Linked DNA regions of Homo sapiens: regions 2, 3 and 4 are each reported to be linked to region 1. Evidence: microRNA targets listed by miRTarBase, many of them from high-throughput screens and not tested one by one. Region 1 holds a microRNA gene; each other region holds the end of a gene's coding sequence.
Evidence for each region. Region 1 holds the annotated microRNA hsa-miR-6771-5p (CUCGGGAGGGCAUGGGCCAGGC, at 4,386-4,407, shown strand). A microRNA usually pairs through its seed, bases 2 to 8, with sites in the 3' UTR of a target mRNA and lowers its output. Matches are read on the target gene's strand: a 7mer-m8 pairs with bases 2 to 8, a 7mer-A1 pairs with bases 2 to 7 and ends in A, and an 8mer does both.

Region 1 (7,120 bases):
TGCGCTCTACGAGAAGTACCAGCTCACCAGCCAGCATGGGCCGCTGCTGCTCACGCTCCTGCTGGTGGCCGCCACTGCCTGCGTGGCCCTCATCATCATTGCCTTCAGCCAGGGGGTGAGTGAGGGCAGCCCCTGGGCTTCACGTCTCGGCCCCAACCTTGGCCAAGCTGCTATCTTCTCTTAGCCTCTTCTGTAAAATGCTTATCTTCTGTAAAATGCTATGCTTTTTTGTTTGTTTTGTTTTGTTTTTGGGTTTTTTTGAGACAGAGTCTCACTCTGTCACCCAGGCTGGAGTACAGTGGCATGATCTCGGCTCACTGCAACCTCCATCTCCTGGGCTCAAGCAATTCTCCTGCCTCAGCCTTCCGAGTAGCTAGGATGACAGGTGCATGCCACCATGCCCAGCTAATTTTTGTATTTTTAGTAGAGATGGGCTTTCACCATGTTGGCCAGGCTGGTCTCGAACTCCCAACCTCAGGTGATCCACCTGCTTCGGCCCCCCAAAGTGCTGGGATTATAGACGTGAGCCACCATGCCCGGCCAATGCTCTGTCTTTTACAGCACATTTAGACTGGTAGAAGACAAGTTTCTAATTTAAAAAAATTTTTTTTGAGACTGGGCCTTGTTTTGTTGCCCAGGTTGGCCTTGAACTCCTGGGTTCAAGTAATCATCCTGGCTTATCCTCCTGAGTAGCTGGGAGTACAAGCATGCACGACCATGCCCAGCCTCTCTAACTTTAATTCAGTTTTGAAGTCTGGAGTGGTTTCAGACATTACATTAACTTGTCCAGATAAACTACTCTCATTTTTCTCCATGATGAAATTCGATTCTACTGAAGACCTGGGTCAGGGATGGCCTGTGTATCACTGCCCTCACTTCCTGTACCCATGCAGACATCATTAATCAATCCCTACATTCCACACTGAGCCTGTCTACATTCTCAGAATCCTCCTTTTGTTTTTTTTTTGTTTGTTTGTTTTTGTAGAGACATGGCCTCGCTATGTTGCCCAGGCTGGTCTTGAACTCCTGGCCTCAAGTAATCCTCCTGCCTTGGCCTCCCAAAGTGTTGGGATTACAGGTGTGAACCACTGTGCCCGGCCTCAGAATCCTTTTTAACACAGCTCTCCAGGCTGGCACCACCTATGTCATTTCCGGCCCAGGCACTTGCCTTGGTACAGCCACTAGCTGTGTTTAGCTATTGAGCATTTAAAAAGTGGGTAATGTGACTGAGGAACTGCATTTTTCAAAAAAAAGAGTTTTGCTCTTATTGCCCAGGCTGGAGTGCAATGGCACCAACTTGGCTCGCTGCAGCCTCCACCTCCTAGGTTCAAGTGATTCTCCTGCCTCAGCCTCCCGAGTAGCTGGGATTACAGGCCCATGCCACCACGCCTGGCTAATTTTTGTATTTTTAGTAAAGACAGGGTTTCACCATGTTGGCCAGGCTGGTCTCAAATTCCTGACCTCAGCTGATCCACCTGCCTCGGCCTCCCAAAGTGCTGGGATTATAGGCGTGAGCCACCATGCCCAGCCCATTTTCTTTTTAGTGAATGTAAATTTGATTAGCTGAGTTCTAGAAGAACACTCAGAAACTCCAGGGTGTTTATGTGAGTGAAGTGGCCAGGACCTAGCAGCTGCCAGTGCAGCCTGGATCCATGTGGCTACCAACCACAGGATGCTTGCTACTGTGTGCCAGCCCCCAGATCAGGCCTCTGCCCCCACGGACCTCCCGGATGCTGTGCCCGTCCTGTCCCACCTCTGTGCCATTGCCTCAGCTCCTCCCCTGTGGGATGACTTTTCCTGGTATCCCTCACCAGCCTCTGCTCACTCACTGAGGGCCAGGCGCAGTGTCCTCTTTGGGCGGCTTTACAAGGCTCTGCCTGTGAATGAGTCCTGCCCTGTGCTTGTGGTATCACCTGCGGCTGTGCACAGAGCACCGTGGGAACCCAGAGAGGAGGCAGAGGCAGATGGAGAGTGATGGCATCATGGGCGGGGCTGTGGGTGATGCTCTGGTTCCCGAGATGATGGGAAGGGGGTGGTTGAGGCAGCCTTGGCAGAGGTGACAAAGGCCAGAAGGTGAGTGGGAACCAGGTGTGGGAGGGTGCATCCACACCCTTCACGTGGAGGAAGCTGTAAGTGAGGCAGCCGGCCCGGCAGGCTTTCTGGAGGAGGTGGCTCTGCACTGGGGAAAGCCGAGGCATTCCTGTCTGTTTGCTCCACCCAGGACCCCTCCAGACACCAGGCCATTCTGGGCATGGCGTTCCTGGTGCTGGCGGTGTTTGCGGCCCTCTCTGTGCTGATGTACGTCGAGTGTCTCCTGCGGCGCTGGCTCAGGGCCTTGGCGCTGCTCACCTGGGCCTGCTTGGTGGCGCTGGGCTATGTGCTGGTGTTCGACGCATGGACAAAGGCGGCCTGTGCGTGGGAGCAGGTAACAGGAACTCTGGACTCCCTGCCAGCTGCGCCTTCAGCAGCTCCCATCCCCGTGGTTGGTGGGCATGCCACAGGCCCTTCGTGCCCCACGCTTGGCTGTGTGTCTAGGATGGCCCCAGGCTGGTTTTGTCCCTGTGAGTTCTCTGCATTGACAGGGCTGAGGTGGGGAGAGCATCCACTCGGACGCTGGGCTGCAGCACTTTTGGGTGGCTCCAGTTTGGTTGGAGATGACAGAACTTCAGCTCAAAGAGGCAAAAAGGCACAAACTGGTTCCTGTGTCAGGAAAGGCCAAGGGGTCAGTGCTGGGCTCCAGTGGGTAACTGGAACTGGGGCCTCTGGACAGCTTCGGCCCCGGGCACGCTGTCCCCAGGTGGGGGCAGAGAAGTTCACAGCGGCTCCAGGCTGCCCACCCCAGTTGAGAGAGAGGGCCCTTTCTCAACCAGCTCGACCTGCAGGCTTGAGCCACACTGGCCTGGCTGTGGTCATGGGCCCAGTCCCAGAGAGGCTGTCACCAAGCGGTAGCACACTCTGACCAGTGGGCCTGGGTCCTATGACAGCTCCTGTGGCTGGGGCAGGGTGGGGTGAGGCCCAAGGAAACCATGTGGACTGAAGGGGAGGGAGAGGGCAGCACTCCCAGAGGGGTGGACGCAGGACCAGCCGGTGGGGATGGTGGGGCAGCTCTGGGGGTGGAGGGAGGGCGGGTGGGGCCGCATTGCTGGAGGCAGCTGGTGAGAGGGTGCCTCAGCCTCCCGGTAATCATTTCTGCTGAGCGAGAACCACGTGGCAGGGGCACCAGGTGGGGGCTCCCTGGATCACGCGGGGCATGGAGCCTCCCACCTAGGGTGGCCACAGGCAGTGGATCAGCACAGGAAACCATGAACCTTGTGGCCGGGCCCACCCTAGAAACACATTATGGCTTTTCTTGTTCCCTTGTATGTCTGCCCACGCAGGGGGTGGCGAGGGAGCCAACCTAAGGATACGCACTGGGTGGGCTGCTGTGGTGCAGGGTTCCGGGGGCTGTACGGCCTGGGGCAGCATCTTGGGGCACCGGGCTCACCAGGCTGCATCCACAGGTGCCCTTCTTCCTGTTCATTGTCTTCGTGGTGTACACACTACTGCCCTTCAGCATGCGGGGCGCTGTCGCCGTTGGGGCCGTCTCCACTGCCTCCCACCTCCTGGTGCTCGGTTCTTTGATGGGAGGCTTCACGACACCCAGTGTCCGGGTGGGGCTGCAGGTGAGGGATGGGCTAAGGCCTCTGGGGGAGGTTTTGTGGTCTGGGTCTAAGGGCAGATGGGGGGGCCCCCTCTGGGTGAATCAGACCCGAAGGCCCCGGAGCCGTGTTTGCAGACAGCCCGCTCCAAGGCCGGGCCCTCTCCACGTCTGCTCGGAAGCTGGGCTCCAGGCGTGGCCCTGCCCTCTGGCCTTTGCTTTGCTGGCCTAGGGCTCCCCTGTGGCTCAGCCCTCAGGGTCGTGACCTCAGGCCTTGCCTCCCGGTTCAGGGACACTGTCGTGGGGTGAGTCCCATTGCCGAAGTTTCCCCTCGAAGGCCCTGTCCTGGCGGGGCTTGGGGGAGTACCCCAGGGCACTGCCTTGTGTCTTTGTGTTGAATGAGTGAATCTTCTGTTCATAATTATTGGGTGTTTAGAGAAGTGTTTTCCCTCTGACCAGGCCTGGTGTCCTCTCCAGGCAGAGGCTGGCCCTCCACACAGCCAGCTGGGCGCTGTGCCCTCTGGGACTGCCCTTAGCACGCATGCCCCTCGGGCCCTGGGCTCTGTGAGGTGGTCTCTTCTGCCTCCCTGGGTGTCCTGGTCTTGCAGTCCTAGTGACTCACTAGGAGACTAGCTCCTGTCTGGGCCTCAGTTTCCCTGTCTGCCCCAGGAAGAGTGCCATTCTCAGTGGGTTGAAGGTCAGGGAATGGGAAGAGGTGCCATCACTAGTCCGCCTAGGGGTCTGGTGCCTCGGGAGGGCATGGGCCAGGCCACATAATGAGCCAAACCCCTGTCTACCCGCAGCTGCTGGCCAACGCAGTCATCTTCCTGTGTGGGAACCTGACAGGCGCCTTCCACAAGCACCAAATGCAGGATGCATCCCGGGACCTCTTCACCTACACTGTGAAGTGCATCCAGATCCGCCGGAAGCTGCGCATCGAGAAGCGCCAGCAGGTGGGACCCGGCCCCCACTCCTCACCCTGTACACCCCTGTCCTCTTCCTCTTTCTGTTGGACATGAGACACTCATGCTGCCATGTGCATGAGGTGCATGGCCAGACACCCATGCAGGTCTCACCTCGGTGAGTCCTGGGCTCCAGCAGGGTAACCATAGCCTGCTGACCCTTGACTCTGCCTTCCTCTGTGTGGTTTCAGTCCTGGGCACGCAGTCCCCAGGTGGCGGCAGAGAAGGCCGTAGTGGCTCCAGGCTGCTCACCCATCAGCTTAGCCTCCCCAGCTGAAAGAGCCCTTTCTCAGTCACCCTGAGTCCCGGGGGCTGCTGGGTACATGGGAGGTAGATGCTCAGTTGGGTTGGTGGAGGACAAGAGCAGAGATGGGGACATTGTGGGCAGGGCAGGCAGGCAGGGAGGATGGGGGCCAAGGAGGCCAGGTCTGGGACCTGATGCTACCCTGCCTGTCCCCCGCTGGTCCCTCCGCCGGTCGCTTTGCTGGTCCCTCTGCTGGTCTGCCCACCCACACCCAGGAGAACCTGCTGCTGTCAGTGCTTCCGGCCCACATCTCCATGGGCATGAAGCTGGCCATCATCGAACGGCTCAAGGAGCATGGTGACCGTCGCTGCATGCCTGACAACAACTTCCACAGCCTCTACGTCAAGAGGCACCAGAATGTCAGGTGGGCGGTGAGACGTGTGATTAGCATATCCCGGGGACTGGGCCCACCGTTCCACCGGCCCCCAGGCGGCCTCCCCGCCCTATCTGGAGGCTCAGACCCCTGCCCATATAGGGATTGGGAGAGGGCCCCATGGTTCCAGGTCAATCTGGGGCCCTCCCTGGGTCTCAGAACCCCCACTTGTGGGCAGGATCAGATCAGGGCTCTTAAATTAGAGAATTTAGATTGGTATTGAAAGATCTAGCACACCCCCAAAACTGTAAAACTGTGTGAGCAAACATAGCTTTTGTGAAGGAAGGGGTCCTTTCAGATGGTTCTCAAGGGAGCACAGGACCCCCAGAATGAGGTAAAGCCCCCCGGCCTTGGTGCCCAAGAGTGCCCCGGTTCTGACACCTGTCTTTGGCTGATTTGCAGGGAACCACAAAATTTTACTTGAATGCACTGACCTGAGTTTGTCAAGTGTCGATGTGGGTGCTGGGTGCCGTTGAGTGTAGATGTGGGTCCCAGGAGACCCCCTGGGTCCTCTGCCTGCAGCGCCAGCATTACATCCAAGGCTGGCCCGCTGCCTTTTCTCTGGGCTGTGGATGGTCCATGAGCTTAAGGACTTTGGAGCAGGGAGAACTGGTGCAGATGCCAGCTCTTGGCTTCCCAGCAAGTCTCAATGTCCTGGAGCCTCAGTTTGTGCATCTGTAGAACGGGAGTTCGGCAAGGGCTGTGTGAGGACTCGATGCCTGTAAAGTGCTGGGTGTGGAGGTTGGCTTGAGGGAGCATGGAGCTGCCTCTCACCAGGGAGTTCTGAAGTCTGTGCTGTGGTGAACATTGGATGGGAAAGGGGAAGGCTCCGGGCTGCCTGCAGGAGTGCCCTTCGGCTGTCTGCAGTGATAGGGCCTGGGGTGGGGCCGAGGGCTCCTGTAGGCTCTGAATTTTGCTCCCTTCTGCTTTAACGTGAAGCCCCTGGAACTTTAATCTGTCTCTATGGCTGGGCGCGACTCTCCCATCCCTATGGAGGCTGAGGAAGGACGGGGGTGAATGGGCTCAGGCCTGGCAGGCTCCTGGGGCTCCAGACAGTCCTGCGTGCTCCTGCTGCTGCTGTCTAGGAGCCTGGCTCTGACACTCCCTCCCACCCTGCCCCATCCCCAGCATCCTCTATGCGGACATCGTGGGCTTCACGCAGCTGGCCAGCGACTGTTCTCCCAAGGAGCTGGTGGTGGTGCTGAATGAGCTCTTTGGCAAGTTCGACCAGATCGCCAAGGTGAGCCCGCTGGCCTACAATGGGCAAAGCCAGGCCCCTCCCCTGCCTATTACACCCCAGGGGTGTCCTGTGTTCAGTGCCCTGCTGGAATTGGGATGGGGAGGCGTGGCTGAATTTTAGCATCCAGCCAGCAAACACAAGCGCCCCATGGTAAAGGTGGGGGTGAGTGGTGGCCACGGCAGCCAGGATCCTGTGCCCCCAGAGTGACAGGCCAGTGGGGAGACTGACAGTGCACACTGGGCGATATACTGGGGCTCTGGAGCTCAGATGGGGGCTCAGGAGGAGGAGATGGCTCCATCCTCACTGGCAAGGCTAGCAGCCTCCACTCACCTGGTAGCTCAGGAGGACTGTGGAATGCCCAGCCTCACCCAGAAGCTGCTTTTCACAGGATCTGAGGTGAATCATGTGCACATTAAACTTTTACGTTTTGTTTGTTTGTTTTTGTGAGATGGAGTCTCATTCTGTCATGAAGGCTGGAGTGCAGTGGTGCCATCACTGCTCACTGCAGCCTCGACCTGCCAGGCTCAAGTGATTCTCATGCCTCAGCCTCCTGAGTAGCTGGGACTACAGGCATGCACCACCACGCCTGGCTAATTTTTTTTTT
Region 2 (7,120 bases), not on the chromosome of region 1:
TAAATCACAAGTTGATGTCTGAATCATTGGAAGGTGCCTTTTCCCACTGTTATTATTTTTAATTATGGCATGCTATCCTTAATTTTTTAAATTAATAGACCTTCTAGTTTGAGACATCATTCAAAAAGTAGACAAAGCCAGGCATGGTAGGGCATGTGCCTATAGTCCCAGCTACTAAGGAGGCTGAGGCAGGAGGATCGCTTGAGCCTGGGAGCTCAACACTGCAGTGGCCTATGATCACACCATGCACTCCATCCTGGGCAACAGAGCCAGACCATGTCTCTGAAGATGAATAAATGAATAAAACAAAATAAAACATTTCTAAAAATAAAACAAAATCAAAGAGTAGACAGGAAGTCCTGAATTCCATCCACCTTAGATCTGATACCACATACAAAATCAAGCTAGGCTGTGCTCGTGTTTCCCAGTGGTAAAGCAGCTCATGCAGTTCTAAGGCTACCAAGTTACTTATGGGATAGGATTCTCCCAGCCTCCAAGACAAATGACAGAGCTTCCTATCTACTGTTTCCCAGGCTCTGATGTTCAGGTGGCCTGGATTGCTGGGTAAAACAGACTGTTTTAATAATCAGTGGGCTTTCTTAGACTCCGACTTAGAGCCTGAATTTAAATTCCTAATCTAATTTAAATACTACCAATAAGTAGCATTTACACACATTTGCTTTTAAGCCCATACACTAATTCTGATGTGCACTGAAAGCATGATATGCTTAGTTACTTCTGATTTTGAAAATTAATTTGAAGTTTAAAGTATTTTTATTAGTTTTTGAAACTAATATTAGACAATAACCAGCAAATGATATGATTCCATTCCATTATACACAAAACCAACCAACTACACCAAAAAAGACAAAAACAAAACCAACAAACATAGCCCTTTCTTGTTTAACTGCATTTTGTTCAATGTTTTAAGCTCTAGAAGGGGAATCTTTGAGTTAATCAGGTAGGACCCTCATTTTGCAAATGAGAGACATGAGGCACAAGTAGGTCAATGACTTATTGAGGTACTTGGAGAGCGAGGCAGTGTCCTCTGCCCATCGCAGCTGGCCAGGCCTTGCAGGAGGAGACACACCCAAAAGAAATGTAGAGGCCAGTTCTACCACATTCATTTCACGCCCTGGGGCTCGCACCCTTAAAAAGCATTCATTGCAGAACAGAGAAGTACATTTTGAACAGGAGTAGAGTAGTTAAACATGTACCAATGTGCACATTAAAAAGCAAAATAAAATGCAGCATTGTCAGAGTCCTCATGGAAACTAGAACTCTCTTTAACCAAAACTACTTTTTAGTCATTCAGTATCACATATCTTTTATGTTGCTTACGGTAAACGTCAGGTAAATCATGATATTTATGCTTTAATTTTATTTACCAAAAATATTTTTTTCCTTATGGGATTTAAAAGCACATATTCTTAGCTTGTGCACAATAGCTCATGCCTGTAATCCCAGAACTTTGGGAGACAGAGCTGGGAGGATCACTTGAACCCAGGAGTTCAAGATAGCCTGGGCAACATAGGGAAACCCCATATCTACACAAAATTTTTAAAATAAATTAGCTGGGTGTGGTGGCATGCACCTGTAGTGCCAGCTACTCGAGAGACTAAAGTGGAAGAATCACTGGAGCCCAGGAATTCAAGGCTGCACCGAGTCATGATCTTGCCACTGTACTCCAGCCTGGGTGACAGAGCGAGACTCCGTCTCAAAAAAAAAAAAAAAAAAAAAAAAAAGCAGCTAGGCGTGGTGGCTCATGCTGGTTATCCCAGCACTTTGGGAGGCCGAGGCTAGTGGATTGCTTGAGCTCAGATGTTCAAGACAAGCCTGGGCAACATGGTGAAACCCCATCTCTACAAAAAAAAAAAAAAAAATTAGCTGGGCGCCTGTAATCCCAGCTACTTGGGAGGCTGAGGCAGGAGGATCACTTAAGCCCAGGAAGTGGAGGCTGCAGTGATCCAAAGTTGTGCCACTGCACTCCAGCGTGGGTGACAGAGCCAGACCTTGTCTCAAAAAAAAAAAAAAAAAAAAAAAAAAAAAAGAAAAGAAAAGAAAAAAAGCATATGTTCTTAGAATACATAAAAATAATTTGCCAGGCATTTTTTTCTCCTACAAATATTATTTTTACTAATAACAAAAGCCCAGATCACATTCTTCTGAAATCAAAGTTTCCATGATAAAAGCCTTGACATTCCAAGTTTTTGTCTTTTCAGTGTCAGCTAACACAGTTTGAATTTTTTGTTTTTTTTTCCTACACTTGTATCATAGTTTAAGGTCATACTAAATGTTCACAGAAAATTAATGACTTATGCATCAAACATCTCAATTTAATCAGGCTTCTATTAGAAAGCAATCTCTTGCATTACATATAAAAATGAGAGCAGAGATACTAGTTAGAGAGCAGCCTATTGCACAAGGCAGAAAGTGATTTTGCTTGTCGTATAGCAGAAGTTCTATTAGGCAATGTCATAACTCCAAATAATACCAAATACCCCTAATACTTAAAATTTTCAAACTCAAAGAGCTGTTTATGTTAATAGGTCCAACAGGGTGAGTATATTTATTGTAATTCAGCTTTTTTTTTTTTTGCAATATTTTATCACTAATTTCAGCGAGCAGAAGACCTTCAGAATCAAGTACACATCTGATCCACATATAACTAAATACCCAAAGATCAGCCAAGTGGGTAGAAAGAGTGACAACAACAAAAACTTGTTTATCCTGCCGGGCATGGTGGTGCAAGCTTGTAGTCCCAGCAATTCAGGAGGCTGAGGAAGGAGGATCGCTTGGGCCCAGGAGTTTGAAGTTGCAATGAGCTACAATTGCACCACTGCACTCCAGCCTGGGTGACAGATTGAGACCCTGTCTCAAAAAGAAAAACCTTGTTTTTCCCACTGCCCTCAGTGAAACACACATCTGATGGGTTGTTTCAACAATAGGTTCTGCTAAACCATTTTAAAAAAAAAAATTCATAACCCGAAACACCTTGATAAGAACAAAGGTTCCCAGTCTTAGAAACAGTAGAATACCTTTAGGACTTCATTTTTAGATACATTTTCTTTTCTTTCTTTTTTTTTTTTGAGACAGAGTCTTGCTCTGTTGCCCAGGCTGGAGTGCAGTGGCACAATCTTGCTCATTGCAACCTCCACCTCCTGCATTCAAGCGACTCTCTTGCCTTAACCTCCTGAGTAGCTGGGACTATAGGCATGTGCCACCATGCCCGGCTAATTTTTATATTTTTTAGTAGAGATCGGGTTTCGCTATGTTGGCCAGGCTGGTCTCGAACTCCTGGCCTCAGGTGATCCACCTGCCTCAGCTTCCCAAAGTGCTGGGATTACAGGCTTGAGCCACTGTGCTGGCCTAGGTATATTTTCCAACACAGGGTAATGAAATGTCCCAGCCTTCTCTTGCCAGAGATGAGACTCTGGGGAAGGTAACGAGAGAGTCCATATGTGGGAGGAGTGGCTTAAAAACGTTCTATGTCATTTTCAAAGGCACTCTGGGCAACCAGGTGCAAAAGAATTTGAAGTGGCCCCTATTCAGATTCACCCACACTGGGTGAAGCAAGAGGTTCTTGTTATTAGTAATTGTCAGCTAAGCATGGTGGTTCACGCCTATAAATCTCAGGGTTTTGGGAGGCTGAAGTGGGAGGACTGCTTGAGCCCAGGTGTTTGAGACCAGCCTGGGCAACATAGTGAAGGCTCCATTTGTACAAGAACTAAAAAATAAAAATATTTTAAAAATTTGCAGGGTGTGATGGTGCACGCCTGTAGTCCCAGACAGGAGGCTGAGACAGGAGGATCTCTCAAGCGCAAGAGTTTGAGGCTTCAGTGAGCTATGATTGTGACACTGTACTCTAGCCCCGGTAACATAGAGACCCAGTATCTTAAAAAAAAAAAAAAAAAAAAAAAGTAATTGCAAAACATTTAATCAGCTTAAGACCTTGTGGGTCTTTTAAAAGCATGATCACAGACACAAACACAGATCCTACATTTGCCCTATCTGAGCTGCTGGAATCTCTTGGTCCTCCTGAGGAATAGTGGGGGGTTGGGGGGAGAGTGAATCTTAAGTCTGGGTGTCCTGACAGCATCCCTTCTGCTATCCACCTCTGCCCCTTGGTCCTCCAAGCGGCCCATGTGAAAAATGGCCAATTCCTTTCCCCTGGTCACCCCTGTTCTCACTTCTGGGGTAAAAAAGAATTAAAAAAAAAATCCTTGTCAGTTTTCAGCCAAAGTCTCTGGAATTTATTGCAAATTACCTTTAGAAAGTTAAATGTGGCCTGGCGAGGTGGCTCACGCCTGTAATCCCAGCACTTTGGGAGGCTGACGTGGGCAGATCACCTGAGTTCAGGAGTTCAAGACCAGCCTGGCCAACATAGTGAAACCCCATCTCTACCAAAAATACAAAAATTAGCCGGGCATGGTGGCAATCGCCTGTAATCCCAGCTACTCGGGAGGCTGAGGCAGGAGAACTGCTTGAACCCAGGAGGCAGAGGTTGCAGTGAGCCCAGATCACGCCACTGCACTCCAGTCCGGGCAACAAGAGTAAAATTCCATCTCAAAAAAAAAAAAAAAAAAGAAAAAGAAAAGAAAGTTAAATGCATCTGTTTTTACAGCCTAACTTACCCAAGAATGGGACAGAGCTCTCTCTGGACCACAGGCAGGATTTGGCAGCACTGCTCAGGCAGATGTCATCCTGGGACCAAGGACCAAGCATTTTCTTACTTGTTGATCAAAAGAATTAAAGGCCACTTAACATTCTGTCATTTACACTTGTGTGGCTACTCAAGAATATAGATTTTATTTTGCAGTGAAATTATAGAAAAAAATAAAGAATATTGATTTTAGACTGAGCATAGTAGCTTATGCCTGTAGTCCCAGTACTTTGGGAGGCCTAGGTGGGAGGACCACTTGAGGCCAGGAGTTTGAGACCAGCCTGGGCAACATAGCCCAACTCTGTCTCTACAAAAAATTAGTTGAGTGCCGTGATGCACACCTTTAGTCCCAGCTACTTGGGAGGGTGAGGTGGGAGGAGAGCTTGAGCCCAGGAGTTCAAGGCTGTGGTTTGCTGATTGCGCCCCTGCACTCCAGCCTGGGCGACACCACAAGATCCTATCTCTAAAGAAAAATAAAAATAAATAAATAAATTAACTGCCTTAAAAACATTAGCCAGGTGCGGTGGCACACACCTGTAGTTCCAGCTACTCAGGAGGCTGAAGTAGGAGGATAGTTTGAGCCCGAGATTTGGAGGCTGCAGTGAGCCACAATCACACCATTGCACTCCAGCCTGGGTGACAGAGGGAGACCCTGTCTCAAAAAAGAAAAAAGTGGGGGGGGGGGAAGACTATCAACTTCAGAAGTAGATGAAATATATATTTAGTAATCTAAGTATCTACATAAAGATACTATGTTTGACTCATTGGCAGGTATGAGTTCATGGCCCAGCGTTCTTTATTAAAATAACAGCTTTCATAGTACACGCTGTGGTTACGTCATTTTTCTTTCAGAGTATTATTACCTTTTAAAAGCTTCTTAAATCCCAAGTTAAAGCTGTTACATTCTAACCCAGTCTCAGAGCTGATTGGCTCAAAACCTCTGTGGGCCAGTAATGCCACATTACCCCGGAGGGGCGGGCAGCGCGGGGGTCAGGGAGCTGCCAAAGCCAGCCCTCCTACTGGCCAGCACGCACATTCCAGGGGATAAATAGGATTAAGTGCTCTAAAGAGGATTCCCAGCCCTCCTGCAAAGGAGGTTCAAACACTCTGGTCTAGTTCTGAACAAAAATAAGCCCCAGAGAAGGAGAAAGTGCCTGTTTAAACACCAGGTGGCCCTACCCCAAGCCTCTGCTCTTCCTCTTACCCCCATCTCCGGGTGGCTGGGGAGAGCCCTTTTCCGCAGGCAAGTGTGCGCACTGGATCCAAGTCCGTGAGAGTAGGTTCAACCCACCCTCTTTGGTTTCCTAAATAGGGTCAGCCCCTGAGCGGCAGTGGGAGGTCATGACCTCAAATCTCTTCTAGCTGCTCTTGGGGACGAATGGATAAACTCTGCTAGGAAGGGCTGTAGCGCGTCTTAGAGAAAGCCCTTTGTATGAACTGCTCTCGGGACACTCTCCTAAATTTAGGCCCTGAAAGATTAAGGTAATAAAAGCTGCTGACATTTGATTGCAATTTTTCTTGTCCGGGAAACAGACCAACCACATAGAACCAAACAGCGTCCCTCTCCAAACTTCACTCCACCCCACCCACCTTTTCAAACTGTCCCACGCAGAAAGGGGGCGACGCTGGCAGGGGTGGGCACCGAACTCGGACTCCCTGTAAAGACGCCCCAACAGCACATGTGTTAACTCATTAACTCGGAGGGATCTAGGGTCACTGTGACGGTTTTCTATTAATAGGGAATAAAGCTCCTGCAGACGTTAGCGGTAATGCCCTGACGGCCGGCGCAAAGTTAACTCCTCCCGGGCCAGCAAGAGGAAACCGTGTCCTGCCCAGGCAGATGTGCACTGGAAACGCGCGTGTACCCATGCACACACGGGGTTTTAGGACCACTCCCCTTGCACAGGCCAGACCCCACACCCATCCCGAGTCTTTTCTCAGGGGAGGGAGCGGCAGCAGCAGGCGGCCGTCGGGTGTCCGTCAGCTCAGCTTCGCCACGCACACGGCTAGGGCCACAGCCGCCAGCAGCACGGCGCCGAAAAGGATGGCGGCCAGGGCCTTCCTGGGGTCGCAACCCCCCCCGCGCTCCTGCAAGGACACGACCGAGGAGGGGCCGGCGCTGACCGTGGACAGGAGCTCGGCGCCCGCCGCCTGCCGGGCTTGCACGGTCCAGCGGGGCACGTTGACCTTCATCTCCATGTTGTCGATCATCTCGCCCACCTGAAGGACCTCGCGCTCCAGCTCCCGCAGGTCCGCGACGTCGAAGTCGCCCTCCGCCTCGAGCCGCAGGCTGCGGGTGCTCAGCGCGCGCGCCGCCACGCCGGAGGAGGCGCCAGCCACACCTGTGCGCACCAGCGGCCGCCGCGGCGCGTGCAGCGGGAACGCGGCGCCCAGCTCCAGCGCGCGTCGCATGTCCGCTTCCAGCAGGTCCAGGCAGCCCGAGAAGGCCACCCAGAG
Region 3 (7,120 bases), not on the chromosome of region 1:
TCACCTTATATTTGTCAGCAAACACCAAGACTAAGATTTTTTATGACCAACAAAAGTAGCTAGGTTAAGATACTTCACAATTACATATAGAATTGGTTCTTAGGCCCTGTTTTGGAATCCCATTTCAAACTGGATATCTGGTTATTTCCAGAAATGCTCATTTGTGCTTCCTAGGAAACTGAGAGACCAAGAACATAAATTCCACTGAATTAGAGACAAGTGTAAGATTTTTTAAAAAATTGATTAACCTGGCTGGGCGCGGTGGCTCACGCCTGTAATCCCAGCACTTTGGGAGGCCGAGGTGGGTGGATCACAAGGCCAGGAGATCGAGACCATCCTGAGTAACACAGTGAAACCCCATCTCTACTAAAAATACAAAAATTAGCCGGGCGTGGTGGCAGGCGCCTGTAGTCCCAGCTACTCGGGAGGCTGAGGCAGGAGAATGGCATGAACCCGGGAGGTGGAGCTTGCAGTGAGCGGATTGCGCCACTGCACTCCAGCCTGGGCGACAGAGCGAGACTCCGTCGCAAAAAAGAAAATTGATTAACCTTTGTTCTTTCCAGCCAAGATGATATTGCTACCATTCTATCTAAAGTGCCACTGGAGAACAACTACCTGAAGAATGTAGTCAAGCAAATTTACCAAGATCTGTTTCAGGACTGCCATTTCTACCACTAGACCCTTGGACCACCATTGGAACAACCAAGCAGAATGTACTTGATATTATTTCAGGGTCCCATTGCTGTTCAGCCTTTGTTTTTACGTCATTACAAGCTGAGTAAAATTCCTTCTGATGATGTTATAGTTAATCTGTATGTTTTTTATATCTCTGCAGAATGATGGTGATGAAGTCTGGATGGTAGGCCTCATAGCCTACTATCAACTTACTCATCTTTGTACCAAAGGTTTAAGTAATAGGACACTTAGGAAAAATGTCTCCTAACTAAACTAGTGCTTTCTGCTTTAGTACAAGCCCTAAGGATTAACTTAAGTATAAGAAGTGTTATCACTGACAAGAACATTAGCCATTTTCCCATAACTAGATAGAGCTATGATTTTTTAGGTTGCCTGGCTTCTGCCTAGCAGATATTTCTGGAGTAGAAATGTATCTGTCTACAAACTATTATCCTTTTTCTCCGTTACTAAAATGCTATTAAGAGAAAGTAGGGCTGGGTGCGGTGGCTCACACCTGTAATACCAGCAGTTTGGGAGGCCAAAATGGGTGAATAGCCTGAGTCCAGGAATTCAAGACCAGCCTGGGCAACATGGCAAAACCCCACCTCTACAAAAAATACGAAAGTTAGCCAGTCATGGTGGCTTGCGCCTGTGGTCCCAGCTACTTAGGAGCTTAAGGCAGGAGGATCACTTGAGCCCAGGAGGCAGAGGTTGCAGTAAGCCGAGACCATTCCACTGCACTCCAGCCTAGGCAACAGAGCAAGACCCTGTCTCAAAAAAACAAAAAGAGAGAAAGCAATAGCACTCAGCTATTGAAATGGTTGCCATCTTTTTTTGAAGGCCTTGCTTTTTATTCTATGGTGTCTATTATGTTTTCTTTTTCTTTTTTTTTGAGACGGAGTCTTGCTCTGTCGCCCAGGCTGGAGTGCAGTGGCATGATCTCAGCTCACTGCAAGCTCCGCCTCCTGGGTTCACGCCATTCTCCTGCCTCAGCCTCCCGAGTAGCTGGGACTACAGGTGCCCACCACCATGCCGGGCTAATTTTTTGTCTTTTTAGTAGAAATGGGGTTTCACGATGTTAGCCAGGATGGTCTCGATCTCCTGACCTCGTGATCCGCCTGCCTCGGCTTCAAAGTGCTGGGATTACAGGTGTGAGCCACCACACCCAGCAATGTTTTCTTAATAAGTATAGTTTTTCTAGGGAAAGTTAATTCATTTTTGTCTAGTACATATATGTAAATATATTAATGTTGTTTTTGTGTTTGTGATGTAGTAAGGAGATGTACATAGAAATTCATTGAGGTATATAGATACTCATCTGTCTAGGCAGTTCCCAATTTTCTGAAGAATGTTTTACAGCAAAATTTTCTATTTTCTTTTATTAAATAGTGACACGTCAAACAATGTCACATCCAAAACACTAGTTTCATCAATTTCTAGCAGTAATAATAGACTTGCTGTAAGTATTGTTTTCTGATGCCATACCCTTGTCATACATATTATTAAATGACCAATATTATGTATGAAGTAGACAAAAAAATTTACTCAAACTTCATTCAAATCCTAATTGTGATAATTTTTGTTTTATATTTAATTATAAACCAAAATACATTTGCATTTTTAAGCTAATTTGTCTCAAAATTTTGCTTTATATTTTTGGATCAGGTTAAAGTCCTGTGGATCCCCTGAATGTTATTGTCCCTCTTGATTGGTTTTTACTTCTGAGCTATACGTCAAAAGACACATAAGCTTCAAAAGTCAAGACAAACCTCATTTGCCATAAAAATCAAGATATAGATGTTCTGTTCCGTAAACTCCTTGAAAAACATTTTAAAGTCATCAATATGATCTGTTTCCCATGAAACTTAAGTTAGCTTTCTTATTGGAGTTATTTCTTTTCTGTAAGTCTGAAAAGTAGAGATTTTGTTTTACGCATTTTAGTAACCTGCAACAACCAACTCTAAAAAAGATTTGGCTTGTAATGACGGTCTCTGCTTTTTTGGGTTTGGAGTACACAATTGTAATATTTACTTAGTTATTTGTGTTTTTCTTTGTTCAAGGTATTGACTAGTTTCATAAATTTTTTGAAAGTTTTTCTTTCATTGGTTGGAAAGCAGATTACATTTTGCACTATTAAAATAAGTTTATTACTTTAAATCTTTTGTGAGTAGTGTTTCTTTATAAAGAATATTTTAGCATTTATCCAATAGACCTTTGAAGATATACCAAAGAAACCTTCCTCTGGAGACACCTACCTATTCAAAACTGAGATTAGGCCGAGTTCAAGCAGGGTGCTTCAGGCCAAGAATTCAAATCCAGCCTACACAACATAGCAAGACCCTATCTCTAAAAAATTTTTTTTTCTTGGCTGGGCATGGTGGCTCATGCCTGTAATGCCAACCCTTCGGGAGGCTGAAGTGGGCAGATCACCTGAGGTCGAAAGTTTGAGACCAACCTGACCAACATGGAGAAACCGTGTCTCTACTAAAAATACAAAATTAGCCAGTCATGGTGGCACATGCCTGTAATCCCAGCTACTTGGGAGGCTGATGCAGGAGAATTGCTTCAACCCGGGAGACAGAGGTTGCAGGGAGCCGAGATCGCACCATTGCACTCCAGCCTGGGCAACAAGAGTGAAACCCCCATCTAAAAATTAAAAAATAAAAATTTTTCTTGTTTTTGAGATGTGGTCTCACTATGTTGCCCAGGCTGGTCTCGGACTCCTGGGCTCAAGAGATCCTCCCATCTCAGCTTCCCAAATTGCTGGGATTATAGGTGTCGGTCACTGCACCCAGTTTGCTATTCTTTTTCTAACTTCTTGTGATGGTAGGTACCTAGCTCATTTATTTTCATTCTTTTTTTTTTGAGACGGAAGTCTTGCTGTGTCACCCAGGCTGGAGTGCAGTGGCCTATCTCGGCTCACCAAAACCTTCGCCTCCCAGGTTGAAGCGATTATCTTGCCTCAGCCTCCTGAGTAGCTAGGATTACAGGCGTGCACCTCCACACCCAGCTAATTTGTGTATTTTTGGTAGAGACAGGGTTTCACCATGTTGGCCAGGCTGGTTTCAAACTCCTGACCTCAGGTGATTCATCCACCTCGGCCTCCCAGAGTGCTGGGATTACAGGCATGAGCCACTGTGCCCAGCCTATTTTCATTCTTTTAACAAGTACTTATGATATATTTCTTTTCTTTTCTTTCTTTCTTTTTTTTTTTGAGGTAATCCATCTGCCTCTGTATCCCAAAGTGCAGGGATTACAGGCGTGAGCCACCATGCCTGGCCCCATATATTTGTTTCTAAGTAATGTTGTTTATCACTCATTCTTCTCCTAATCTGTTTTTTTTTTTTTGTTTTTTTTTTTTTTTTTAATATTTATGTCTTTTTTTGTTTGTTTGTTTGAGAGGCCAAGTCTCACTATGTTGCCCAGGCTGGTCTCAAACTCCTGAGCTCAAATGATCTTCTCGCCTCAGCCTCCCAAAGGGCTGGAATTACAGGCCTGAGTCATTGTGCCCAGTCTCAAATATATATGTCTTTTTTGGTCAATAAGAAAGTGAGATTATTACTGTTTCTTAGAACATGACTTCATAACAGAGCTCAGCCCCAAAGATCCAGATCAGACTTGAAGAACAAGAGTTTGAAGGTGATTGCTCCACAAATAAAAAATACTTGTGGGGCAAGAGATTGATTCCAGCATTAATATGTTTGCTTCTAAAATTTTTTCTTTCTTTTTTTTAGACAGGGTCTCTCTCTGTCACTCAGGCTGGAGTGCAGTATCACGATCATGGCTTACTGCAGCCTTGACCTCTCTGGGCTCAAGCGATCCTACCATATCAGCCTCTCGAATGGCTGGGACTACAGATGCACACTACCACCCCCAGCTAATTTTTGTGGAGATGTGATTTCAACATGTTGCCCAAGATGGTCTCAAACTCCTGGCTCAAGTAATCCACCCACACTGGCCTCCTAAAGTGCTGGGATTACAGGTGTGAGCCACCACAGCTGGCCTAAAATTTTCTTCAGTTCTAAAGTTTGTGAAAAGCAACAGTAAGGCTGGGCACGGTGGCTCATGCCTGTAATCCCAGCACTTTGGGAGGCCGAGGTACAAAGATTTCATGATATATAAACTGATTCTGTCTAAAATCTGTTTTTATGCTAAACTTAGTATCACATATAATTATTTTTAAAAATTTTTAATCACCTTATGTTATCCTATACTAGATTTTATTCATTCTATCTAACTGTATTTTTGTGCTTCATCACTTGAGGTCGGGAGTTCAAGACCAGCCTGGCCAACATGGTGAAACCCCATCTCTACTAAAAATACAAAAATTAGCTGGACGTGTTGGCACATGCCTGTAATCCCAGCTACTTGGGAGGCTGAGGCAGGAGAATTGCTTGAACCTGGGAGGCGGAGGTTGCAGTGAGCTGAGATGGCGCCACTGCACTCCAGCCTGGGTGACAGAGTGAGACTCCATCTCCAAAAAAAAAGAAAAAGGAACGTAAATAACAAATCAGACTGAGCCTGGTAGGACCTATAGCTGAGATTAATTACACTCACAGCTGAAGAAGGTTTTTAGACTGAATGACAGAATAAATCCCAAGTGGCAAAAATATACATTTCACTCCTTTAAAAATATTTCACCAGAAATATTTAGGGAAAAAATCATGATGTAAGATATTTTAATCCCCAGGAAATGGCTGGGCGCAGTGGCTCACGCCTGTAATCCCAGCACTTTGGGAGGCCAAGGCGGGCGGATCACGAGTTCAGGCGTTTGAGACCAGCCTGACCAACATGGTGAAACCCCGTCTCTACTAAAAATACAAAAATTAGCCGGGCGTGGTGGTGCGCGCCTACGTCCCAGTTGCTCAGGAGGCTGAGGCAGGAGAATCGATTGAACTCGGGAGGCAGAGGTTGCAGTGAACTGAGATCGCTGAGGTTTGCCACCACAGTTGTCTATGGGTAAATACACAGATTTCACAATGCATAAGCAGATTCTGTCTAAAATATTTTCCTGGGTCAAACTTTACTGGAGCTCTGTAAGGTGTTCAGACTGGCACTAACCAAACACAAGAGACTTCTACATAGCAATTCTTATCTAGTGTAACATAAACACCATCACAGCATTTTATTAATTGTTATTAATGAAACCTTAACACATTTATCCATATACTTTATTGTAAACACAACTGACATTCACATTACCATAAGAGCATTATTGCAGGAATCAATGTTATGAGAAAGCAATTGCTATGATTTGAATGTTTTGTCCCCTCCAAAACTCTTGAGACTTAATCCCCAGTCCGCCAATATTGAAATGTGGGGCCTTTAAGAGCTGATTCAGTCATGAGGGCTGTACCCTCATGAAATGGATTAATGTGTTACTATGGGAGTGGGACTGGTGGCTGTTTCAGAAGAGGAAGAGAGGCTGGCCAGGTGCAGTGCCTCACACCTGTAATCCCAGCACTTTGGGAGGCTGAGGTGGGCAGGTCACATGAAGTCAGGAGTTTGAGACCAGCCTGACCAACATGGTGAAACCCCATCTCTAATAAAAATACAAAAATTAGCTGGATGTGGTGGCACCTGCCTGCAGTACCAGCTACTCAGGAGGCTGAGGGAAAAGAATTGCTTGAACCCCGGAGGTGGAGGTTGCAGTGAGCTGAGATCACACCACTGCACTCCAGCCTGAACGACAAGAGCAAGACTCCATTTCAAGAAAAAAAAAGGATGAGAGAGCCAGGTACGGTGGTTCACACCTGTAATCCCACCATTGTGGGAGGCCGAGGAACGGGTTGGGGGATCTCTTGAGCTCAGGAGTTTGAAACTAGCCTGGGCAACATGGCAAAATCCCATCTGCACAAAAAATACAAAAATTAGCAGGGCATGGTGGTGCATACCTGTGGTCCCAGCTTCTTGGGAGGCTAAAGTGGGGATATCACTTGAGCCCAGGAGGCAGAGGGTGCAGTGAGCCAAGATGATGCCGCTGCACTCCAGCTTAGATGAGAGTGAGACCCTGTCCCCCACAAAAAAAGAAAAAAAAAAAGAGGAAAAGAGACTTGAGCTAACACTCTCAGCTCCCTCGACCTGTGGTGCCCTCTGCCAACAGGCACCCCATCAGAGTCCCTATCAGCAAGAAGGCCCTCATCAGATGTGTCTCATCAACCTTGGACTTCTCAGCCTCCAGAACTGTAAGAAATACATTTTTGTTTCTTTATAAATGACTTGAGTTTTAGGTATTCTGTTACAAGCAACAGAAAATGGACTAAGATGGAAAATATTGTTGTCCATGGCTAAGTACAAAGATTTCATGATATATAAACTGATTCTGTCTAAAATCTGTTTTTATGCTAAACTTAGTATCACATATAATTATTTTTAAAAATTTTTAATCACCTTATGTTATCATATACTAGATTTTATTCATTCTATCTAACTGTATTTTTGTGCT
Region 4 (7,120 bases), not on the chromosome of region 1:
GCTGGGATTACAGGCATTGGCCACCAGGCCTGGCTAATTTTTGTATTTTTAGTAGAGACAGGGTTTCACCATGTTGGCCAGGCTGGTCTCAAACTCGTGACCTCAGGCAATCCGCCCACCTTGGCCTCCCAAAGTGCTGAGATTACAGGCTTGAGCCACCATGCCTGGCCTGCAGATTGGATTTTTGAAGTGACTTCCTGATTGCAGTTTCTTTTAGTAGGGAACTAAGTGAAGAAGTGGAATTAAGCTACTTCTGGAAGTAAGGTTTGTTAAATAAACTATACCTAAATGTGCACAGTATTTTTAATTCATTCAAATACATACCATATGCAAGCATCATGCTAGAAACTAAAAAGGTAAACATGGACAAAAACATATAGGGTCTCTGCCCTCATGCAACTTAAGAATCTACTAAGAGAGACAGATAATCACCTGAAAATATAATTAAAGTGATAAACTCTCCCAATAAAAGGTGCATGACAGTTGTAATATAAAAGTGTATGACAAACTGATTTCCAGTGTAGCTAAACCTGTGTAATAAGTAATTCAGTAACTCTTACAGCTGTCTGCCTTAGTTTCACTTTTTTTTTTTTTTTTTTTTTGAGACAGCCTCGTTCTGTCACCCAGGCTGGAGTATAGTGGCGTGATCTCAGCTCACTGCAACCTCCACCTCCCAGGTAGCTAAACCTGTGGTGGAAATGTAAAATTTCCAATTTCAGACAAAATGTCTGAAAGTGGCTCTGCATATCTCAGCATGTGTTATTACCAGCTATTCTAATAGGTGTTCAATGGTATCTTGTTATAATTTGCACTTCCCTATTAATAATGATGCTGAACATCTTTTCATGTGCTTATTATCTGTACAGCTTCTTTGATGAAGTGTCTGTTCAAGTCTTTTGCCCATTTTCTAATTGGATTATTTCTTCCTAATAAATTTTGCAAGTTCTTTATATATTCTGGACATAAGTTTTCTGTTGAACATGTGCTTGCAAATATTTTCCGTTTATGGCTTGCCTTTTCATCCTCTTTAACAGGGTCTTCTACAAAATGTTTTTATTTTTTACAAAATTCAATGTTTTTTTAAGGAATTTTAATGCCAGTTGGCCTAACCCTTGCTCAAGATTTCCTGTTTGCTTCTAAGTTTCAGTTTTATATGTTACAGTAAGAACATGACCCATTTTGAGTTAATTTTTGTTTTAGAGACAAGGTTTTGCTCTCTTGCCTAGGCGGGAGTGCAGTGGTGTGATGACAGCTCACCACAGCCTCAAACTCCTGGTCTCAAGTGATCCTTCTGCCTCAGCCTCCCAAGTAGCTGGGACTGAAAGTACATGCCACCATGCTCAGCTAATTTCTTAAAATTTTAGAGAGAGGTTCTCACTATGTTGCCCACCCTAGTTTCAAACTCTTGGCCTCAAGCTGTTCTCCCACCTCAGCCTGCCAACTAGCTGAAATTATAGGCACGAGCCCCCCATGCCTAGGGAGTAAAAGTTTTTATAAGGTAGAAGGTTGAGGTTGAGGTTTTTCTTTCTTAGCTATGACTATTCAATTGTTCCAACACCCTTTGTTCGAAATTCAATTTTTCTAACACAATTCATCTATTGAATTGCTTATGTACCTTTGTCAGACGTTAGTTTTTCATACTTGTGTAGGTCTATTTCTGTACTCTATTCTGCGTCTATCACTGAGCTATGTGTCTATCACTACCAAAACCACACAATCAGTACCAATATCACAGTCCCGATTACTGTACTTATGTGTCTTAATATCTGGTAGTGTGATTCCTCCAACTACATTGTTTTCAAATTGCTTAGGATATTCTAGTTCCTTTGCTTTTTAATGTATTTTAGAATGAGCTTTATTCCGATTCTTTAGAATCAGAATCATTCAACAAAGAATCCTTCTGGGATTTTTATAGGACTTGTATTAAACCCATAAATCAACTTGGGGGCAACTTAGTTAATATATTGTCTTCCAATCCATATAAATGGTTATGTTTCAGACTCTTTAAGTCTAGACATTTACAATCTATTATCTCTCTGAAGACTGCTACCTGGAAGATTCATCTGCATAAAACCTTGGTTTCCACAACCCCTTATCATATCCCAGACACCAGTATCTATCAATAATAACCGACTCCCAATCAGAAAATCTTTGGATTTGTCTATGACCTGGAAGTCCCCACTTCCAGTTGTCCCACTCTCCTAAGCTAAATCAATGTACATGTTACCTGTATTGATTGATGTCTTACGTCTCTCTAGAATGTATAAAGCCAAGTTGTAACCCAATCACCTTAGGCACATGTTCTCAGGATCTCTTGAGGGCTGTGTCACAGCCCATTAGTCACTCATATTTGGCTCAAAATAAATCTCTTCAATATTTTAGAGTTTGACTCTTCATCAAGGTCCTGTAGGTGTTTTGTTGGATTTATACTTAGTATTACATTTTGAAATTGTAAATGGTATTAGCATATAGAAATACAATTTGATTTTTGTGTGGTTGATCTTGTATTCTGTGATCTTACTAAATTCACTAGTTCTTGTAAGTTCTTGGAGATTTCTTAGAACTTTGTATGTAGAAAATAATGTTAAATGCAAATATAAAGTTAATTTTTTCATTTCCAATCTCTGTGCCTTTTATCCCCTTTTCTTATATTATTGCACTGGATATCAAGTACTACACTGAATAGGAGTGGTGAGTGTGCATATCCTTATCTTGTTCCTAATCTTAAGAGGAACGCATTTAGTCTTTCATCATATATTATTTTGTAGATGCTGAATGTTTGTGGAAGAAGGAAGTATAACAACTTCATGGACTTTAAGTGTACCTGAATTCAAAGTGTGGGAAAGTGGAAGGACATCATTTACAATTAAAGAAATCTAAATTCTCTCCTTGATTCTGATACTATATAGACCCTCAAAGGCCATGTTAAGAGCCAATAAATGGAAAACAGCAAGAGTTTTAACGATGGGGGCAGAGGGGGAGGGAGCAAAATGGCATTATATTATATTCTAAATATTTTGAAATCGTTCTCATATTTACTGTAAATGAAATAACATCTTAAATAATTTAAACACAATTTAAATTAAAATATAATTTACCTTTTTATTTAATTAAAAATTGTTTTACAAATCAGAACATCTGAATTATAATCCCTGATCTGCTAACAAGCTATGATCCTTGCATATAACTGGTTCTCATTTTTGTCACTCTAAAATTAGAACATCACAAGATAGCCAGATGCAGCAGAGGATACCAGAAAAAATGCTGACTTGGAAACCCCTGACATCCTGGGTCTGGTCCATGCTCTGTAACACAAGAGGTTAATTTATCTGAACCTCAGATATCCTCATCTTAAAATGAAGTACAACAAAATCATCTCCAAAGTCCTGTCTAAAATCCTATGGTTCTATGAAATGAATTAAAATGAAGTTACTTTGATGATATGTGGGCTACAGTATATAAGACAAAAAGATTAATTGAAATATTTGTCAATAAAAAGTTGAAGTATATGCTTGCAGCATACTAAAATACTGGTCTTCCCTTTATATTTTTCTCTACATCCTCTTGTGCCCCCAAATCAGTATTATTTTTATGGTTAAGCTGTGTAAATATGTCCCCTTTTCACCTCTGTTGGCTTAGAATGCTAGGAGCTGAGCTGCACTAAGACATTACTTCTTTCGTTATATGGAATTATCTCCTTGCTTTAAATGATTAGATTCTGAAATAGCATCCCTGACATGTCTAAAATAAGAGTTTTACACTTAAAAAATGTTGAAGAGTAGATAAGCAGATATATTAGTCAGAAACATACATGGCTAAAGTAACAGGAAACCAAACAGTGTCTTAAACAATCTGGAGTTTATTTTTTCTCATTTAATAATTGGGGAGTTTGGCAATTGCTCATCTTGATTTGGGTGTTCAACAATGCCATATCAGGGACCCAGGATCCCCTTAATCCTCCTTCAGTTCTATCTCTGAAATGTAACTTTCATTCTCACATTTGCTGTTTCATGGTTGTTTGATGGCAGCTGCACCTTTAGGCATGCTGTTGGCCAGAAAGAGGAGAAAGAGGCAATGACTGTTACCACACAAAGCTCTGATTTTTTAATTTGAAAGGAAAGCCCTTCTCAGTAGGGTTCTGTTCATTTCATTCAATTTCTCAATTGCAGTAGTCACATATCAAGTACTCAATATCACATATGGTTAGTAGCTACCACAATAGAGAGACAGAATGGATGGTTGATTTCCTTCACTGCAAAAAGTTCTGCCTCGTACTAATCAGACTATACAGAATTAAACTACCACTTCTGTTTCAGATCAATGAAGGTGCAACCTCTGGAGTTGGGGTAAGGTCCTAATCTCTTTGAGGAAGAGGGATCCTTGCCACTATCAGATCAAACTAAGGTACTGCTAAAGAAGAAATAAAGGTAATAGCTGTAGGCAACTGCCTGCTGTAATGGGATTATCAGTACATTTAAGTTGAAGTTTATAAATAACTAAGGATTGGCAATGTGCTTAACAAATATAAAATCTTGGAAAGAAGTTATTAAAATTTTGAAAAAATAAAGTGATACTGGCCAGGCTCAGTGGCTCATGCCTGTAATCCCAGCATTTCGGGAGGCTGAGGCGGGTAGATCACTTGAGGCCAGGAGTTTCAGACCAGCCTGGCCAACATGGTGAAACCCCATCTCTACTAAAAATACAAAATTAGCCAGGCATGGTGGCACATGCCTGTAGTCCCAGCTACTCAGAGGCTGAGGCACAAGAATCGCTTGAACCCGGGAGGAGGTTGCAGTGAGCTGCGATCACGTCACTGCACTCCAGCCTGGGTGACAGAACGAGACTGTCTCAAAAAAAAAAAAAAAAAAGTGAAACTAAGGCAGACAGCTATAAGAGGCACTGAATTACTTATTACACAAATATAATTGCTAGAGTAAACACTAATCCAGTGACTGACGGGGAGGAGGTTTGAAGGGGAAAAGGTAGTGAAACAACGTGCAGGCACTATTTTCTTTACAGAAAATGTAAATTTCAAATGGTTCATCATGTTGAAAATGCAGTTACTAATTTCATGTGTACAAAGACGGGATCTTTGTGGTAATAAAGATTAGTAGAGAATTACCTTCAGATGAGAAGAGTTCTTTCACAGAATATATTAATCAGCTGCCTATTACTCGTGGCAGAATAAAACGAAAATGACTGTAATATGAAAGATTAGACTAGATATGGAGAATAATTTATTAGCAGAACTATTCAAAAGGTTAAAAGAAGCTGATATTGACAATACTTTTCTTTCTAAACACTTCTAGATTGTCAATTCCTCCACAATCCCCACTTGTCCAAAGCAGCAATGACAAGTCTGTAGATGCCTCTGTATATTTTTAGTAAAAATAAATTTAAATATATTTATTATAAACAAATACCATAAATATTTGCGGTGAACAGTTGCTATTTTAAAAACTGATTTGTGTCTAAATGAAATTTAACTTTCAAGTCTCTTCTATTTTGTTGAAACATGTCAAATACTGTTGAAGGTAGCATAATGGTTGTTTATTATGAAAAGAGAAAAATAAAAAATTCTAACTAAGGTAATGATAGAATAGGAAAATTTTAACATTTTTGTTTCTAAGGATAGTTTTAATTTTCTTATTTTTTTCAAAATTAAAAATAACTACAACCCCTTTAATCCCTACTCTTTATGATTCTTTAATATTCTTTCATGTAATTTACTATTAAAGGATTCAATAAATATAACTTGCATAAAAGTTAAAGTGTCGTAACACATATTTATCTTAAGGCATTTTATATGTAAAAATCTCAATTATGTCCTATATCAAAACAAAAATTTTACAAAGAAATATTGCTGAACTTTGGAGAATGACATATTTTAAGCAAGATTCATCAGAAGGATATTACAGCAGATAAAACAATTCAAATAGCCCACTGGAATGTACAGCAAAATCCAATTCGACAATATAAACAAAGTCAAAATAATCTGCTTCGGTCAGCTACATATGCTGTGACTTTGCTATCACCAGTAAGGAGTTAACTAGAAACTGAGTTCTTAAACAATATATCCACTGTGAGTATAACAAAATGAAGTTAGAATCTTCATATGCAAGTTTAATAAATCATCATGGTTTATTTAACAAGGTTATACTACATTAGAGTTTTATATATATACATGTATATGTGATATGAAGAGACTGATGTACAATCAATAAGTCTTAAATCTCTCTTCCATGGATTTCCCCCATCTCCCCACTTAGCAGTAAAAGGCATTTTTAGGTTTATATAAACACATTCTTTACAACTGCCTTCTTAACAGAAAATTACTGTAGTATATAAATAGCACTGAGCATTTAGTAAATAAGTTACAGGCCAATAAGTTCAATTGTGCAGTTGTGAAATCTAATGTCAAAGAGTTTTTGAAACCTTAAGACTGGGTGATCTGCAATGTTTCCAACATGTCTTCGACAGCCTTAAGAGAATATTTGGTTTCCTTCTTACTTCGACCTGCAAACTAATTAAAAAAAAAAAAAAAAAGCTCAATTAGGCTCAATTTCAGTGGCAGGTTAAAAATGACAATCTTCACACTGTTAATGAAACTTAACATTGACTATTTTATCACTAGTAGGAAATCAAATATATTCTTTGCTTTTTCAATAAGAATAAAATTTGAGTATTAAGGACATTTTCCTTTAAGGTCTTACCTTCAGCTGAAGTGTACAGAGAGTTCACTGCACACTTGGCCAGTTTAAGTGTTTACATAATATAATAACCCATAAAATCATGTATTTGAAACTATCTTATTCAGACCAAAATAATGAAATAAAAAGTATAATTTTAAAATGCAATTTAGCTTATATTTATGTAGTGTAGCAGTGTGAACCACTTCCACTTGTCTGATGTCTAAACAGATTTTTACAATTTCAAACAAAGGTACAATACAAATACAAGTTATTTCACTAAACATTTTAAAGTTGCAAGTACTCTCTAAAATTATTTAAAGTAGCTCATAATTTTTTTTAAGTTTCCAGATTTATTAGTTAACTAAATGATATGGTTCTGCAAAGAGCTGTCAAGTAAAAACCTATGCTACACATTAAAACAATGTAAA

Region 2: miRTarBase lists RGS9BP as a target of hsa-miR-6771-5p. The part of its 3' UTR that is shown has no 7-base or 8-base seed match.
Region 3: the mRNA of KNL1 is a reported target of hsa-miR-6771-5p. Seed matches in the 3' UTR shown: 7mer-m8 at 1,670-1,676.
Region 4: the mRNA of EMC2 is a reported target of hsa-miR-6771-5p. Seed matches in the 3' UTR shown: 8mer at 4,613-4,620.

What each region holds. Positions count from the first base shown.
Region 1 is chr16:50,288,236-50,295,355 of GRCh38, forward strand. MIR6771 (microRNA 6771) reads left to right here and starts at 4,381; the gene lies at 4,381-4,440. ADCY7 (adenylate cyclase 7) reads left to right here. Exons shown (of 26, transcript NM_001114.5): 2 at 1-115; 3 at 2,222-2,425; 4 at 3,501-3,662; 5 at 4,441-4,590; 6 at 5,119-5,267; 7 at 6,405-6,516.
Region 2 is chr19:32,676,495-32,683,614 of GRCh38, reverse strand. It overlaps RGS9BP (regulator of G protein signaling 9 binding protein), which reads right to left. Exons shown (of 1, transcript NM_207391.3): 1 at 5,315-7,120. The coding sequence ends at 6,644. Among named protein-coding and RNA genes, the nearest start is that of RGS9BP, 4.2 kb to the right of the region's middle. RefSeq lists an enhancer at 7,071-7,120.
Region 3 is chr15:40,661,511-40,668,630 of GRCh38, forward strand. KNL1 (kinetochore scaffold 1) reads left to right here. Exons shown (of 26, transcript NM_144508.5): 26 at 564-2,832. The coding sequence ends at 678. Among named protein-coding and RNA genes, the nearest start is that of RAD51-AS1, 30 kb to the right of the region's middle.
Region 4 is chr8:108,485,915-108,493,034 of GRCh38, reverse strand. EMC2 (ER membrane protein complex subunit 2) reads right to left here. Exons shown (of 11, transcript NM_014673.5): 11 at 3,839-6,523. The coding sequence ends at 6,437. Among named protein-coding and RNA genes, the nearest start is that of EMC2, 46 kb to the right of the region's middle.